2 separate regions of the Homo sapiens genome follow, and region 2 is reported to be linked to region 1. The links are microRNA targets in miRTarBase. Many come from high-throughput screens and were not tested one by one. Region 1 holds a microRNA gene; the other region holds the end of a gene's coding sequence.
What was found. Region 1 holds the annotated microRNA hsa-miR-3925-3p (ACUCCAGUUUUAGUUCUCUUG, at 4,267-4,287, shown strand). A microRNA usually pairs through its seed, bases 2 to 8, with sites in the 3' UTR of a target mRNA and lowers its output. Matches are read on the target gene's strand: a 7mer-m8 pairs with bases 2 to 8, a 7mer-A1 pairs with bases 2 to 7 and ends in A, and an 8mer does both.

Region 1 (8,199 bases):
CACTAATTCCTGTTAAGATATGACCTGAGAAATGTTCCAAGCCCTATACTGATTCTTCTCTGTCTTCACTCTTTTTCTCCTCCCGAGTGAGGCCCCATATCCCTCCAGCTACCTGTCCTCCCATCAACTCCACACATTTCCAGATTAATCTTCCAAAACCACCAGCTCCCCACTCCCCCTGCCCAGTATTCACCACTCTCCAGACGTGCCCTTGTTCCCTGGTTGACTGGACTTTTGGCTACTTTCTTATTCTCGTGGAGTAGGGGAGCATCATGGTCACCACATGGGCTCTGGGTTTGAATTCTGCCTCCACCATTCAATGCCTTTACTTCCTCATCCATGAAATGGGAATAACAATGCTACTACTTCATGCGGGTGCTTTGAGGATTAAATGAATAAATATATACTCAAAATAGTGCCTGGAGCCGGGGGCGGTGGCTCACGCCGGTAATCCCAGCACTTTGGGAGGCCGAGGCAGGTGGATCACGAGGTCAGGAGATCGAGACCATCCTGGCTAACATGGCGAAACCCTGTCTCTACTAAAAATACAAAAAAAATTAGCCAGGCACGGTGGTGCACACCTGTAATCCCAGCTGCTCGGGAAGCTGAGGCAGGAGAATGGTGTGAACCCGGGAGGCGGAGCTTGCAGTGAGCCGAGATCGCACCACTACACTCCAGCCTGGGCAACAGAGCGAGACTCTGTTTCAAAAAATAAATAAATAAATAAATAAATAAATAAATAATAGTGCCTGGCATGTTTTGAGCTTTTGTTCACTTTTATTATTTATATTGTTGTTAGTCACTAAAATGTCCATAGAGGATGGATTTTGTTTTGTATACCAAACCTATCTCAGTGACTAGAACAATGTCGAGCACGTAGTAGAGGCTCAATTAATAGTGTTGAATTTTTCTATTCTGTAAACTCTGTTCCAGCCAAACTCTTTCCCATGACATACCTTATACATTACCACCTCTCTGCCTTTGCTCATGCTGCTCCCACCTCTTAAAGGGCCCTTGCTCCATCTCACATAACTCCTACCAGCTCCAGCTGCCCCTCTCCTCAGAAGCCCTCCCTGGACTCAGAACCTGCACAAAACAAATGTTCAGTGGTTTGTGGCTAAGGTTTTTTTATGCTTTGGCTCCAAAACAGAGTTTCCTCTCTTCCTGGCACTTAGTGCTCACCACCTCCGGAGATGGCCCCTAAGAAGTGGACCACCCTAGCTACTATATATATGTCCTTTATCTCATGGCTTTGACATTCAGAAAGGGCTTCCCAGGTGAAGCCATCTGAATTACTAGACATAACCAGACATGTGGTCTCCAAGCCACATTTTCTGGGCTTCTTAATTGGTGAGTTGAGAGACACGGCATCTGTTTGCCCAAGAAATCTGAGCCAAGCAGTTCCACATCAACAGGCTGCTTTCCACCCTGGACGGCACAACAGCTGCCTAAAACTTAGCTGTTTACACACTAAAAAAAGAAATTCCATGGAGACCAGTTGACTCAAGCCAGCTCCCAGTGTGAGGCAGAGAAGGGTTTCAAAGCAATCCCCAATGACACCAAAAGCTCTCCACCCAGTTCTCGATAAAAATAAAAAAGAAAACAAGAGCGAAATTAGAGCCAAGAATGAAGACTGCCTGGAGGATGAGGTGTTGGAAGCTGGAGTTGGACTGGGAATCAGCCTGACAGTTCCCTCCAGGCAGGCTTGTCCGCTGCCACCCCTGTCCCCACCGCAGGGATGGGACACTCACCACTTCTTGAGAAAGCCCATTTCGCCATTGGGAAGGTTTATTAAACATGAAATGAGGGAAAAGCCTAGTAGCTCCATCGGATTGGGAAGAATGGCAAAGAGAGACAGGAGTCATTTTCTAGAAAGCAATCTTCACACCTGTTGGTCCTCACCCATTGAATGTCCTCACCCAATCTCCAACACAGAAATGAGTGACTGTGTGTGCACATGCGTGTGCATGTGTGAAGGTATGAGTGTGAATGTGTCTATATGGGAACATATATGTGATTGTATGTGTGTAACTATGTGTGACTGGCAGCGTGGGGAGTGCTGGTTGGGAAGGTCCTCTCTGGAAGGCTGGGAGTGCAGAGGACAAGAGACTGACCTTGCTGAGTGGAAGCCATGGGCCAGGCTCTCCCCAGTCCTCATTGCCTAGAATGTCTTCTCCACACCCACCAGACGAGTACCACTCACACCCTAGACCTTCTTCTAAGTGCATCACGTACATAGCTCTTTTCATCCTCACACACTGCCGGGAAGGTAAGCTTGGTTACTTCTGCCATTTTACAGGTGGGGAAACTGAGGCTAAGAGAGGTTAACTTCTGCCGGCAACACTTGGAAATGGTTGGTATGGTTGGAAGCCGGCACCGCTGGGCCCAGGGTCTGGGGCTAAGTGGAATTCAGTGTGGGTCTTTCCTTTCCCATTAGAACCCCTCAAGTGTCAGACCCTCTGCCCCTCCTCGCAGTACTTCCGCCTTGCCTCATGCCTCCCAGGCACTATCTCTGTGAACTTTGAGCTCTGCCCCTATTGCCCAAGAAAGGCTCGCTGATGAGGAGGAAATTGCCCAGGTTTATAGTTTCCTCCCAGCCTCTCTGGCGACACCTGAGCCTGCTGCTTCTCCCCTTCCGCCTCCCGCCACAGTCATACACACAGCCACTCATGCATACTCACATCACACCACACTCCAACCAGCACTCCCCACGCTGCCAGTCACACATAGTTACACACATACAATCACATATATGTTCCCATATAGACACATTCACACTCATACTTTCACACATGCACACGCATGTGCACACACAGTCACTCATTTCTGTGTTGGAGATTGGGTGAGGACATTCAATGGGTGAGGACCAACAGGTGTGAAGATTGCTTTCTAGAAAATGACGCCTGTCTCTCTTTGCCATTCTTCCCAATCCAATGGAGCTACTAGGCTTTTCCCTCATTTCATGTTTAATAAACAAGCCGCTCTTGCGGAACGATGGTTGGATCCCTCATCAACCACCACACACTCCCGACCCCACCCTCCTTCCTGCCCCTGCCAGCAAACCTGACAGGTCCAAGGCCTGGAATTGAGAACCTGTTTTCTTCCCCATCCTGCCCCCTTGTGACGGGAGCCTAGAACTGCTGGCTCTGCGCCCAGAGGTTAACCACATTTCTCAGGAAGGTTCCAGTAGCCAGGCGGGTTGTTAGGAGAGGTCTGTATCCAACTCCCCTCCTCCTGCAGAGGGGCAAACTAACTAAATGAAGATCCACTCTTCCTTCACCCCGATCCTCAGGGCCACCAGAAGAGCTGACTGCTGTTTCACAGGCACACTCCACTGGCACAGGAGATGGGTGGGTGTGCCAACTGGACCAGCATATGGCAGGACCCTTATGATGATCAAGCCTACAGTCATCATACAATCACAGGATTGTTGCCCTATATCCATATTTTCTTGACACCCTAATAGTGCATTTGGCTAAACCTTGGTGAAATAGGCATGACAGCATGTGACTGTGCCGCCTCTGACACTGACCACCCAGGCCTTTCTCTTCACTCCTTCCCTGAGGCCTTGGAGGGTCTGCCTGTGGCCTTTAGTCTGGTGTTTGAGCTCACAGAACTGGGTGTGGTTGACCCTCCCTTTGTCCTCACCCCCTCCACACACACACAGGGATGCTCTTGCAGGCTCCTGGTTTGATGAGGCAGCCCAGGATGTGTCCCCACCTTTCCTCTTTGAGCCCAGGGCCAGTGTATTTCAGGCCGAGTGATTTCACCCAGGGTCTTGTTTCCATTCCATTTTATTTTTAGTCCTCAGGTGCAGTGGGATGAGTCCCTCCTATTCCCCAGGTGATGGCTGGCTGTCATCATTGGTCCTGACTAGTCACCTCTTGCTTCATGTATTCCCCCCTCACTCCATTGTCATTTCCATGCCCCCACCCCACAGGCAGCCATTCTACTATATCCTTTATTTGTATGTGTTCTTGTGCAGTGCTTTGTAGGCATGGATTTTGGTACTGCAAAGTGCTGCATTGTACACATAGTATTGCATAGTGTTGCCTTATTACCATTTCTGTAACAAACTGAATGTGTTACTTTATGTTGGAGCGTGGTGGAGCCTTAAGAATTTATTGAGAATCTCTGCATTAATGATTATGAAAGTGACTGCAAGTTTTCGCTGAGTCTTATTTCCTGAACATAAACTCAGGATCCTGGACCATGGTCATGTGGGAATAGCAAGAGAACTGAAAGTGGAGCCTGTCACATCTCCAGACTCCAGTTTTAGTTCTCTTGCTATTTCCACCACATCTTTCATCACTTCCTCCACTAAAGTCTTGAACTCCTCAAAGCCATCCACGTGGGCTGGAATCAACTTCTTGATGATGGATGAAGCCACTTCCTTGTGGCTGGAACCAACTTCTGTGTTTCCTAAAATGGGGACAGCAATAGTACCTACTCTCTAAAATTTGTTGTGGGCTAGGTGCGGTGGCTCACGCCTGTAATCCCAGCACTTTGGGAGGCCGAGGCAGGCAGATCATGAAATCAGGAGATCGAGACCATCCTAGCTAACATGGTGAGACCCTGTCTCTACTAAAAATACAAAAAATTAGCCGGGTGTGGTGGCGGGCGCCTGTAATCCCAGCTACTCGGGAGGCGGAGGCAGGAGAATCACTTGAACCTGGGAGGTGGAGGCTGCAGTGAGCCAAAATCACGCCACTGCACTCCAGCCTGGGCGACAGAGGGAGACTCCGTCTCAAACAAAAAAGAAAATATTTTTTGTGAAGATCAAATGGGTTAATACAAGTGAAGAGTGCCTGGCACTACTAGTGCTCAGTAAACATTGTTTATGGATGCTTTCTTTTTTTTTTTTATTAGGCCTTATAATAGCCCTATGAGGTAATATAATTAGTTCCATTTCACTGATGAAGAGACCAAGGTCCAGGGAACAAAACAACTTGCCCAGGTTTGCATCATGATACTGCCAGAAGCTAAATCTAGATCTTCAGACCCCAAGACGGCCACAGGACCTCGATCCCCATGTGTTCCCTAGAGGTGTTGTGCAGAACCTTCCTGATGCTGATCTGGATGACGAGCGGTCACCCACAGGCTGCTGGAGATGATTCCTGGTCGGGTGGCCCTCAGTCCTCCTTGATCTTTCTCCCACACTGTGATCTTCACACCCACTGGCCATTCCTGAGAAAGAACCTGCCTTCTCCAGGGCTTTTGTGGGTGCCCATGTTCACCAAGCAGCCTCTAAAGTGATGTGAATCCTAGCGCCAGGCCTGGTAGTAGCACATATGCATGGTAGATGCGTGCTGGAAAAGCAGGAGCCCTAGGAGCCTGCCTTGGGTTCTAGTCCTAGCCATCCATTGCCTCACCCTAGGGTCTAACTTTCTATCTCTAACCTTCAGTTTCCACATCTGCACAATGGGGATAGGAACTTTTCTGTGAGGATCAAGTAGGTTTTAGGAGACTATTCCAATCTTGATCAAATACTAACAGTCGCCTGAACCCTGCAGAACAATCCCTGCTTGTTGTACAGTCTGATGCCACCTCAGATGAACCATTACCCACTGTATGCACTGAACATTTTCCCCTCCCCTCCAGGAAGATCATCCTCTGGATCTGCCCTCCTCACAACGGCCTTATTGCTTTTCTGGAGTCACCGAATCTTAGAATATCGGTGCTGGAAAAGAACTTGAGGACCATCAGTCCCAGTGTGGCAAACTTATCTCCTTATCAAGGACCCCCGCTGCCTAAAGCAGTGGTTGACTCAGTCATTGCTCCCCTCACTGCAGGGTGCAGTGTGAAGAGGGGACAGATCATCCTGTGAGTTACAGGCCACCTTCAGCCCAAATACCCCCTTTCTACAGATAGGCAAACTGAGTAAATGATGATCCCAACTTCCTTCACCTGACCCTCGCCTCAGGGCTACCAGGAGATAGGGACGCCATGTTGGCACAGGAGATGGGTGGGTATGCCACCTTCCCCATGGGCAGGCCCCTATTGCGGTCACATCTCAAGTGACTACTTACAACCATCAAACAATTAGGGTTTACTGGTGGATGTCTTTATCTTTTTGACATTCTGTAGAATTATGCTAACAGATTTTGGAAAACAATTTGCCCAAAATCTACGTGACTTCATCCTTTGATTTTTGTTTGTTTGTTTGAGACAGGGTCTTGCCCTTCACTCAGGCTGGAGTGCAGTGGCGCCATCACAGCTCACTGCAGCCTTGACCTTCCAGGCTCAAGTGATTCTTGTGCCTCAGCCTTCCAAGCGGCTGGGATTACAAGCGTGCACCACCACGCAGCTTTTTTGTTTTTTTGGTTTTTTTTTTGAGATGGAGTCTTGCTCTGTCACCCAGGCTGGAGCGCATTGGCGTGATCTCGGCTCACTGCAACCTCTGCCTCCCGGGTTCAAGCGATTCTCCTGCCTCAGCCTCCCAAGTAGCTGGGACGACAGGTGCGTGCCACCACACCCAGCTAATTTTTGTATTTTTAGTAGAGACGGGGTTTCACCATATTGGTCAGGCTGGTCTTGAACTCCTGACCTCATGATCTGTCCTCCTCAGCCTCCCAAAGTGCTGGGATTACAGGCATGAGCCACCGCACCCAGCCATGCCTGGCTAATTTTTGTATTTTTAGCAGAGACAGGGTTTCGCCATGTTGGCCAGGCTGGTCTCGAATGTCTGGCCTCAAGTGATCTGCCTGCCTCGGCCTCCCAAAGTGCTGGGATTACAGACGTGAGCCACCACACCTGGCCTTAATTTTTGTATTTTTTGTAAAAATGCAGTTTTGCCATGTTGCCAGGGTGACTTCACCCATTTTCAATGCAGAATTTTAACACAAGAGTGTACTTTAGCCAGTGAAATGTGCACGCTTACTTCTTTTAGGAAAAAACTGAAATATTTGCTGGGAACCCCACAACAGTTGCCACAGGAAAGACCAGAAGAAAGCAAAAACAGGTAAGGAGCATCCTTTAAAGTGAGGGGAGGCCGGGCTCATGCCTATAATCCCAGCACTTTGGGAGGCCAAGGCGGGCAGATCACTTGAGGCTAGGAGTTCGAGACCAGCCTTTAGCAACATAGCCAAACCCTGTCTCTAATAAAAATACAAAAATTAGCCGAGCATGGTGGCACGCACCTGTAATCTCAGCTTATTGGGAAGCTGAGGCAGGAGAATCACTTGAACTCAGGAGGCAGAGGTTGCAGTGAGCCAAGATCGCACCACTGCACTCCAGCCTGGGTGACAGAGCAAGACCTTGTCTCAAAAAAAAAAAAAAAAATGTGAAGGGAAAGCCCACAATGATAGCACTTTCATGCTGGCAAGCCCACGGATGGTGCATACTCAGTGTCTCTGGGGGAGCAAAACTCAGGAGCCGACAGCCCTCACCTAGTCAGGTGGTTTATTCACAAACTGTCCACTCCCAGGACTTCAGGATGGGGCAAGTCACAAAGCAGGATGTTTTCAGTGGGGAATGTTTAAGTCCTTCAAGGAAAATACCGTATCATGAGCTTTTCAGGGACAGGTATCTGTGACCCACCTGTGTGCAATGCCTCTGTGGTCCTGATATTCTGGTGCTGGGCTTGGACTCAAGCTGTGGGTTTCAACCCAGCTTAACCTTATCTGCATGACCTTGGGGAAGGCACTTCCTCTTTCTGGAATTCAATTGTCTCGTTTGCAAAGTGGGACCATGATATCATCTCTACAAAACCCTCTAAACACAAATGAAGAAACTTCCCATACCAAGCACCCAGAATAAAGAAAAAGGCTAGAAAAACCAGAAGCTATTGAATCACTTTTTTCCCTTTTTTTGCTTATATGTGCTAATTTTTCTACCATGGTCATGGGTTACCTTTGAATTATTATAAAAGTGAGTAATTAAAGGGGGTGGAGCAGAGCTGATGTGAAGGAAAACGCTGAGCTTGGCAACTTTCAGGGCCTCCTCTGTGCCAGGCACAGTTGCTGATGCTTCACCTATGTGACCTCATCTCTTTGTCCCAACAAGCCTGAAAGGGAGGCATTATGGCTCCTACTTCCAGCTGGGGAGACTGAGGTTCCCGAAGGAGTCAAGCCCTCACTATCATGAGAGCCTGTGGTGATGGTGATGTACCAGGAAGGCGCATACAGATGTGTGGCAGCAGCAGCAAGGTGAGCACTGCAACTCTGAGAAAGCGGAGCCTCCCCCCTTTCTTGAGACACT
Region 2 (8,199 bases), not on the chromosome of region 1:
CACAGTAATGTTTACTGTTTCTCTTCTGAGCTCAACTGTTATCATCCAAGGGAGAACTTGAAGCCTGTGTAATTTCTGCCAAATCATGTTAGGGGTCTTAGAGGTGGCAAGATGGTTGGGGAGTACACAGAAATCACTGTCTGTGCTCTAGCACAGTTTATATCTAATTAAGAAGTTTTGGCCAGGTGTGGGGGGCTAACACCTGTAATCCCAGCACTTTGGGAGGCCAAGGCGGGAGGACTGCTACAGTCTGGGAGATGGAGACCAGCCTAGGCAGCAAGACCTTGTCTCTATAAAAAATACAAAAATTAGCTGGGTGTGATGGTGCATAACTATAGTCCCAGCTACTCAGGAGGCTGAGACAGGAGAATCGATTGAGCTCAGGAGATGGAGGCTGCAGTGAGCCGTGATCATGCCACTGCACCCCAACCTGGGTCACAGGGCGAGACCATCTTGAAAAAATAAAGAAGTTTCAAGGAGGCATTCCTGCTGTTCCTATGCCTTAGTCCATTTGGGCTGCTAGAAGAAAGTACCATAGACTAGATGGGTTATAAACAACAGAAGTTAACTTCTCACAGTTCTGGATGTTGGAAGTTTGAGATCAGGGTGCAGGTCCTCTTCTCGGTTAGACTGTTGTCTTCTCATTGTATCTTCACATGGTGGAGAGGGAATGAGAGCTTTCTAGGGTTCCTTTCACACGGGCACGAATCCCATTATGAGGACTCCGCCCTCATGACCTAATCACCTCCCAAAGGCCCCACTCCCTAATATCATTACATTGAGGATTAGGATTTCAACGTATTACTGGTGGTGGTGGTGGTGGTCGTGGGGTGTGCATACAACATTCGGTCCATAATATTAACTGTGCTTTTCCTCAGCCATTACTGTGAGATTAATATTGTGAATCATACAACTTACTGGGTTTCCCATTTTGTGTGAGTTTGTTTTTGACACAGAGTCTGGTTCTGTCATGCAGGCTGGAGTGCAGTGGCGCCATCTTGGATCAATGCCAACTTTGCCTCCCAGGTTCAAGCTATTCTCCTGCCTCAGCCTCCTGAGTAGCTGGGACTTACAGGCATGAGCCACCACGCCCAGGTAATTTTTGGGGAGTATTTTTAGTAGAGATGGGGTTTCACCATGTTGGCCAGGCTGGTCTCCAGCTCCTGACCTCAAGTGATCTGCCCACCAGAGTCTCCCAAAGTGCTGGGATTACAGGTGTGAGCCCCTGTGCCCGGCCATTTTGTGTGAGTTTGGTGCCAAAATATTTAGCTCACTTGGTGCAAATGTATGTCTTTTAAGATTTCCATTTAAGGCAGGGCGTGATGGCTCATGCCTGTAATCCCAGCACTTTGGGAGGCTGAGGTGGGTGGATCACCTGAGGTCAGGAATTCCAGACCAGCCTGGCCAACATGGCAGAACCCTGTCTCTACTAAAAAAAAAAAAAATACAGCCGGGCGTGGTGGCTCACGCCTGTAATCCCAGCACTTTGGGAGGCCGACGCAGGCAGATCACGAGGTCAAGAGATCGAGACCATCCTGGCCACCATGGTGAAACCCCACCTCTGCTAAAAATACAAAAATTAGCTGGGCATGGTGGCAGGCACCTGTAGTCCCAGCTACTTGGGAGGCTGAGGCAGGAGAATCGCTTGAACCCAGGAGGCAGAGGTTGCAGTGAGCCGAGAATGTGCCACTGCACTCCAGCCTGGTGACAGGGAGAGACTCCGTCTCAAAATAAATAAATAAATAACCCAGGTGTGGTGGCACGGCCTGTAATCCCTGCTACTCAGGAGGCTGAGACAGGAGAATCTCTTGAACCCGGGAGGCGGAGGTTGTGGTGCGCTGAGCCTGCACCACTGCATTCCAGTCTGGGCAACAGAGCGAGTCTCCGTGTCAAAAAATATATATATATACATATATATATATATTTCTGTTTAATATCAGCCTCATTCTTGGCTTTTTTTTTTTGAGATGGAGTTTCACTCTTGTTGCCCAGGCTGGAGTACAATGGTGCAATCTTGGCTCACCGCAACCTCCGCCTCCCGGGTTCAGGCGATTGTCCTGCCTCAGCCTCCTGAGTAGCTGGGATTACAGACGCATGCCACCATGCTGGGTTAATTTTTTGTATTTTTAGTAGAAACGGGGTTTCACCATGTTAGCCGGCTGGTCTCGAACTCCTGACCTCAGGTGATCTGCCTGCCTTGGCCTCCCAAAGTGCTGGGATTACAGGCGAGGGCCACTGCACCTGGCCTCTTGGATCTATTTTAATCATTATCTTTCTCAGGTATCTCTCTAATGCCCATCATCCTTAATCTATTTTTTATAAGAACATTTCATTATTATTCAACAATTCGGAAGCATAAAACGACCCAGTGGAGTAGCCATTTCATTTCTCTTACTTACTGATCTATACTCGAGCAAGTTTGTCCAACGTGTAGCCCACGGGCCACATGTGGCCCAGGATGGCTTTGAACGTGGCCCAACACAAATTCGTAAACCTTCTTAATAACATTATGAGATTGTTTTTGTAATTCTTTTTTAAGCTCATCAGTTAGTGTATTTTATGTGTGGCCCAAGACAATTCTTCCAATGTAGCCCAAGGAAGCCAAAAGATTGGACACCCCTGTTCTAGATGATTTCTATAGCTCACACTTTACTTTTGGAGAACAATTTTTTCAGAAAGAGCCATTGATGCTTCAGCCTTATTTAAAACCAAACAAACACAAACTCACTATAATGACGGTGACAGGCAACACTGTATTATAGGTTTTCCTAACAAAACCTGTAATACTACTTTCAGACCAGAAGACCAACTGTTATGTGGAACTATAAAGAAAATTCCTTAATCAGTATCTTTAAAACAGAAACCAGAAGGATAATGACAGTAGTCTCTAATAGAGAAAATAGTGCTGGAGTTGATAAAAATTGAATTAAATCATTTTTTCCTTCTCCAATTCCAGCCCTATTCAATCATTTTCTGATTCCTCAACTGTTAAGATAAGCCTAGACTGGTCAGGCACTGTGGCTCATGCCCGTAATCCCAGCACTTTGGGAGGCCAAGATGGGCAGATCACTTGAGGCCAGGAGTTCAAGACGAGCCTGGCCAACATGATGAAACCCTATCTCTACTAAAAATACAAAAATTGGCCCAGCTCACGCCTGTAATCCCAGCTACTCAGGTGGCTTATGCACGAGAACCACTTGAACCAGGGGAGGCAGAGTATGCAGTGAGCTGAGATTGCACCACTGCACTCCAGCTTGGGTGACAGAGCGAGATCCTACCTCAAAGTAAAAAATAAAAGCATACATAATGTCAAAAAACAACCACACAAAGCTACCCCACCCACCTGTAATAAAACAGGTCACTTTATACCTGGCTCAGACCAGATTTTTGCTGGTGGCTAAAGAATGCTTTATGGATCAAAGGGCAGGTTGAGATTGCCTACTTACGTTCATTCCTTCCAAGCATCTTACCATAAACATCTGCCAAGGTTATGACGAGCATGTCACTAGGTTGCATTTTATTAGTTGCTGCCAACAGCTCTTACTTCTGATGGAAAAGAATTTAACAACAACAAAAAAACCCAGTATACTCCAACTTATGCTTTTTCTATGCTTTTATCACCAAATGATAGTACATCCATATATAACTCTAGATATTTGTTTTATAGTCCACACACTTGCTAGTTAAAATGTATTATCATAAGCCACAGTCTGTTCAGAATTACTTGGGTAAAATGCTATGTCACCTACAAACCCTCATCTGATTAATATGGAGGTTGTAATCACTGTCTCAATGGTTTCAGGCTCGTGAAACTTCTCATGCTATTTTCTTACGCCTGTGCTGGCTGGCTGACGGCCAAGTCCTCTGCCTCTGCCACTGCCTCAACCCATAAGCATGCTACAGTGCAGTCCAACCTTTTTTGGTCTTGCCGACCCAAGAGCAGTGTAAACCAGTTGAATCCAACTGCATCACAGTCACAGCAGGCAGGAAATTTCAAGGATCGTTAAGTTTAAGATTTGCCAACCTAAGATCAAGTTATAGGTTTTAAAGTGATTTCATTATCGCAAAAGGATAGCTTGGCTGCTGAGTGTGATTTTCCTATGTTCACATGTACTCCATGGGATTCTAAAACAGAAAATTAAATCTGAACATAAATGATCTGCCAGTTCTCCAAATGACAGGCTTGTGGCAAAATAGGAGAGGCAGTGTCATTTTCAAATCATGTAGCTAGAATCTGATCCAAGTCCATAATCAACGTCTTCCCTATTTTCCTTTGGTCCTTCAGTCTGTTATTACTGTTATTACCTTCTTCCCCACAGACAAATGGAAAATTCAAACATGTTTCTACTTGACATATACGCTGCAATCTTCCTTTCACACTGGCACTCACTATGGTTTTCACGAGAAGAGGTGGCAAACAGGTGAACATCTCACAGAATGTAGCTTCCAAAAATGCTGTTTTGGGCCAGGTTCGGTGGCTCACACCTATAATCCCAGCACTCTGGGAGGCCGAGGCGGGCGGATCACGAGGTCAGGAGTTTGAGACCAGTCTGGCCAACAGTGAAACGCCGTCTGTCCTAAAAATACAACAAAAATTAGCTGGGCGTGGTGGGGGAGCGCCTGTAATCCCAGCTGCTTGGGAGGCTGAGGCAGGAGAATTGCTTGAACCCAGGAGGTGGAGGCTGCAGTGAGCCAAGATCGCACCACTGCACTCCAGCCCAGGTGACAGTGTGAGACTCCGTCTCAAAAAAAATAAAAAATAAAAAATAAAAAAAGCTGTTTTTACTTGACTGGATATGTTGGTGTGGAAAGCAAAAATAATGCAATGATATGAAAAGTAATGGTATCTTATTTATTTAGAGTCTTACTCTGTCACCCAGGCTGGAGTGCAGTTGCGTGATCTCAGCTCACTGCAACCTCCATTTCTCCAGTTCAAGCAATTCTCTTGCCTCAGCCTCCTAAGTAGCTAGGAGTACAGGAACCCACCACCATGCCCAGCTAATTTTTGTAATTTTAGTAGAGACAGGGGTTTCACTATGTTGGTCAGGCTTGTCATGAACTCCCGGCCTTAAGTGACCCACCTGCCTTGGCCTCCCAAAGTGCTGGGATTATAGGTGTGGGCCACTGCGCCCGGCCAGTGTATTTTAAAATTATAAAGCCGATATATTACAAAGTAAAATGCAGGGGAAAAAAAGTCACAAGAAGTATAAAGATTAGATGCTTCTTGTGCTTCTTTTTGTAAAATACAGATGATCCTCAAGAAGTAACTTGAGCAGATTTTCTACTGGCTTTCAAATTGATAACCCTACACCCCCTATAAATTTTTACATTCCTTAACAGAGCTAACCATAGGAACTTCCAAATAATTTCTCAGTGGAAATGAGTCTTCAAAATCACACATGGCTCATAAGAGTTTTGCTTTTTTAATGCCTTCTCAAAGGACCCAGACTGCTAGATTTTCATAATAACTACTTTAACCAGATAGACTTACTATAGGCTGGTAGTTCCCCACTAAAAGATACTTTTCTCTTGCTTAGTAGTCACCTTCCTGTGTTCTAGAGCTTCCCTATGCTTTTAAAATATGCATTATTACAACAGTTCTCCTAAAAACAAAACCACCATAAGAGCTGCTGCACTCGGGGAGCCCTGAATGAATTCTAGAGCAGCGCCTGAGTCCTGCATTCTTTCTTCATTGTCCTTTTTGCTTAATTTGCCTGTGGTGTACCATCAACCTTACAATGGAGACAGAGAGAAAGTACTCCACCTAACCTATTTAAGAAACATTTGCAATATACTGTTTTTTTTTTTTACAAGTCTTTAATTAAAAAACTCAACAAAAATATATAATTGAGCATTTTACATAATGCATACATTCTTAATATCTGCAGGTAAGATAAACAACAGAAGGCAAAAGCAGATATGCTGTATTGCTTCTTTGGCAACTCACCAATATCATCCCCTGCAGAAACAGAGTTTTTTTTTTTTTTTTTAAATCCATGGTCTTAAAATAATTGTCCCTTAGTATAAACAAAATATTTAGCAATAATACAGTAGACGGATTCTTCAAATTCACAACAATTTATAATACTTTATACCACAAGGGTAAACTAGTAAGCTGCTTTCTAAAATTAAGGCAGCAGCAGTGTTTAGAGGGGGAGTAAAAAAAAAAAAAAAGACATCCTTTTTCTAGTTATATCCTGGCTCTGCCTTCTTTGTTGTTGTTTTTAAATAACGTCACATTCAAGCTCTACGTCTTGGATGACATTCCTAAGGATAATAAAATCCTTTTCCCTGTACATAAACTGTGTTTCACTTCCAGATCAGTCTGACACTCTCCAACAAAACCAAATACATTTCGTATGAGGCAACACAATTTTTTTTTTTTTTTGAGATGGAGTCTCGCTCTGTTGTCCAGGTTGGAGTGCAGTGGTGTGATCTTGGCTTACTGCAACCTCCACCTCCTGGGTTCAAGCAATTCTCCTGCCTCAGCCTCCCAAGTAGCTAGGACTACAGGTGTGCACCACCACGCCTGGCTAATTTTTTTTTTTTTTGTATTTTTAGTAGAGACAGGGTTTCATCATGTTTGCCAGGCTAGTCTCAAACTGCTGACCTCAGGTGATTTGCCCGCCTCACCCAATTCAACTTTCGTAAGTCAGTATTTACCATCTAACTCAGTGTCCCAGAATTTAAAATTTCCTTGCACTTTACAGCAAAGATACATATTGTGGCTCTACTGAAGCAATATATACATGTCAGAACTAAAAATCAGAAAAGCAAAAGGGTCCATTCAACATATAGCAGCTTATATCTAAATATGTACAGGTATGTATGTTTTCACAGTTAGATCTTTAAAAAAATTTATATTTGATATGTTCAGAAATACTTCTATTGTCTATAAATAATATTTTAAAAGCTCAACTGATCAAAATGCAGTACAAGAACATATCAAATTAAATAAATCTTCTACGTCTTTAAAAACAGATAATTGAAGTCAGTAAAGCTTGAGGTTTGTGTTAAGTGTATTCTGTCAGTCCCTACTACTAGGGAAGGCAGAATCTTCTAAATACGATACGAGAGAAACTCCAAAAGCTTGGAAGGAATCGGCAGCTCCTGAACTTCTTGGGTGGGCATCACTCTTCGGATTGACATGCGACATAAATGTTGCAGGCTAGGGACCTGCCGTGGAGTGGCCCAAAAATACACACTTCCGTCATGTGTCCTAAACAGAAACAAAGCACATGCTTAGTCACCCAAGTATATGTATTTCAGTGTTGCTACAGCTCAAACAACTATCACCCAATACATGTGAGTAGTGGAGTCACAAACTTCACATTAAAACCCAACCAGGAAGAACTAACCAATGATGTATTCCATGACAAGGTAACACTACTATGAAGAACACTTATTAGAGTTTTACTGACAATAAATTACTAGCTGCTAAAAGCCCCCTTAAATTGGCCCTTAAAGAAAAGAGAAAAATGGGCCAGGTGTGGTGGCTCACGCCTGTAATCCCAGCACTTTGGGAAGTTGAGGCGGGAAGATCACTTGAGGTCAGGGTCAGGAGTTTGAGACCAGCCAGGCGAACATGGTGAAATCCCGACCCTACTGGAAAAACGAACAAACAAATAAATTAGCCAGGACTGGTGGTGTGCACCTGTAGTCCCAGCTACTCGGGAGGCTGAGGCAGGAGAATCTCCTTGAACTGGAAGACGGAGGCTACAGTGAGCAGAGATTGCACCACTGTACTCCAGCCTGGGAGACTACATCTCAAAAAAAAAAAAAAAAAAAAAAAAAAGAGAAAAATATATTTACCCAGCAGCTAAAACACTGCCATCAGTAGAGAAGGCACAGCAAAGACCATTGCTCAAAGGTGCAACTTGCACTGGATAATCCTCATCAATTCTCCAGAACCTCACCATTCTGAAAATGAAATAAATTATTTAGTATCTTGTAGAAAATGTAAGGTAAAAGCAACTTTTTTAAAATTTAGAAAGAAATGCCATTGAGTTATGAGTCACAAAATACACACATCACACCAACAGGCAATTATAATAACTTGCTTTATACAATTACAAAATATTTTAAGGTCTATAATATCAGTTGGTAAATTGGATAAACTTTCACTTAAGAGACTACAATGCATGGCTGCCTTCCCTCCTTCCCAGTGTTCAAACCTAGAATGTTCACACCCGGAAACTT

Region 2: miRTarBase lists WSB1 as a target of hsa-miR-3925-3p. Seed matches in the 3' UTR shown: 8mer at 4,925-4,932.

What each region holds. Positions count from the first base shown.
Region 1 is chr6:36,618,534-36,626,732 of GRCh38, reverse strand. It overlaps MIR3925 (microRNA 3925), which reads left to right and starts at 4,221; the gene lies at 4,221-4,297.
Region 2 is chr17:27,311,230-27,319,428 of GRCh38, reverse strand. It overlaps WSB1 (WD repeat and SOCS box containing 1), which reads right to left. Exons shown (of 9, transcript NM_015626.10): 8 at 7,813-7,920; 9 at 3,503-7,219. The coding sequence ends at 7,060. Among named protein-coding and RNA genes, the nearest start is that of LINC03146, 17 kb to the left of the region's middle.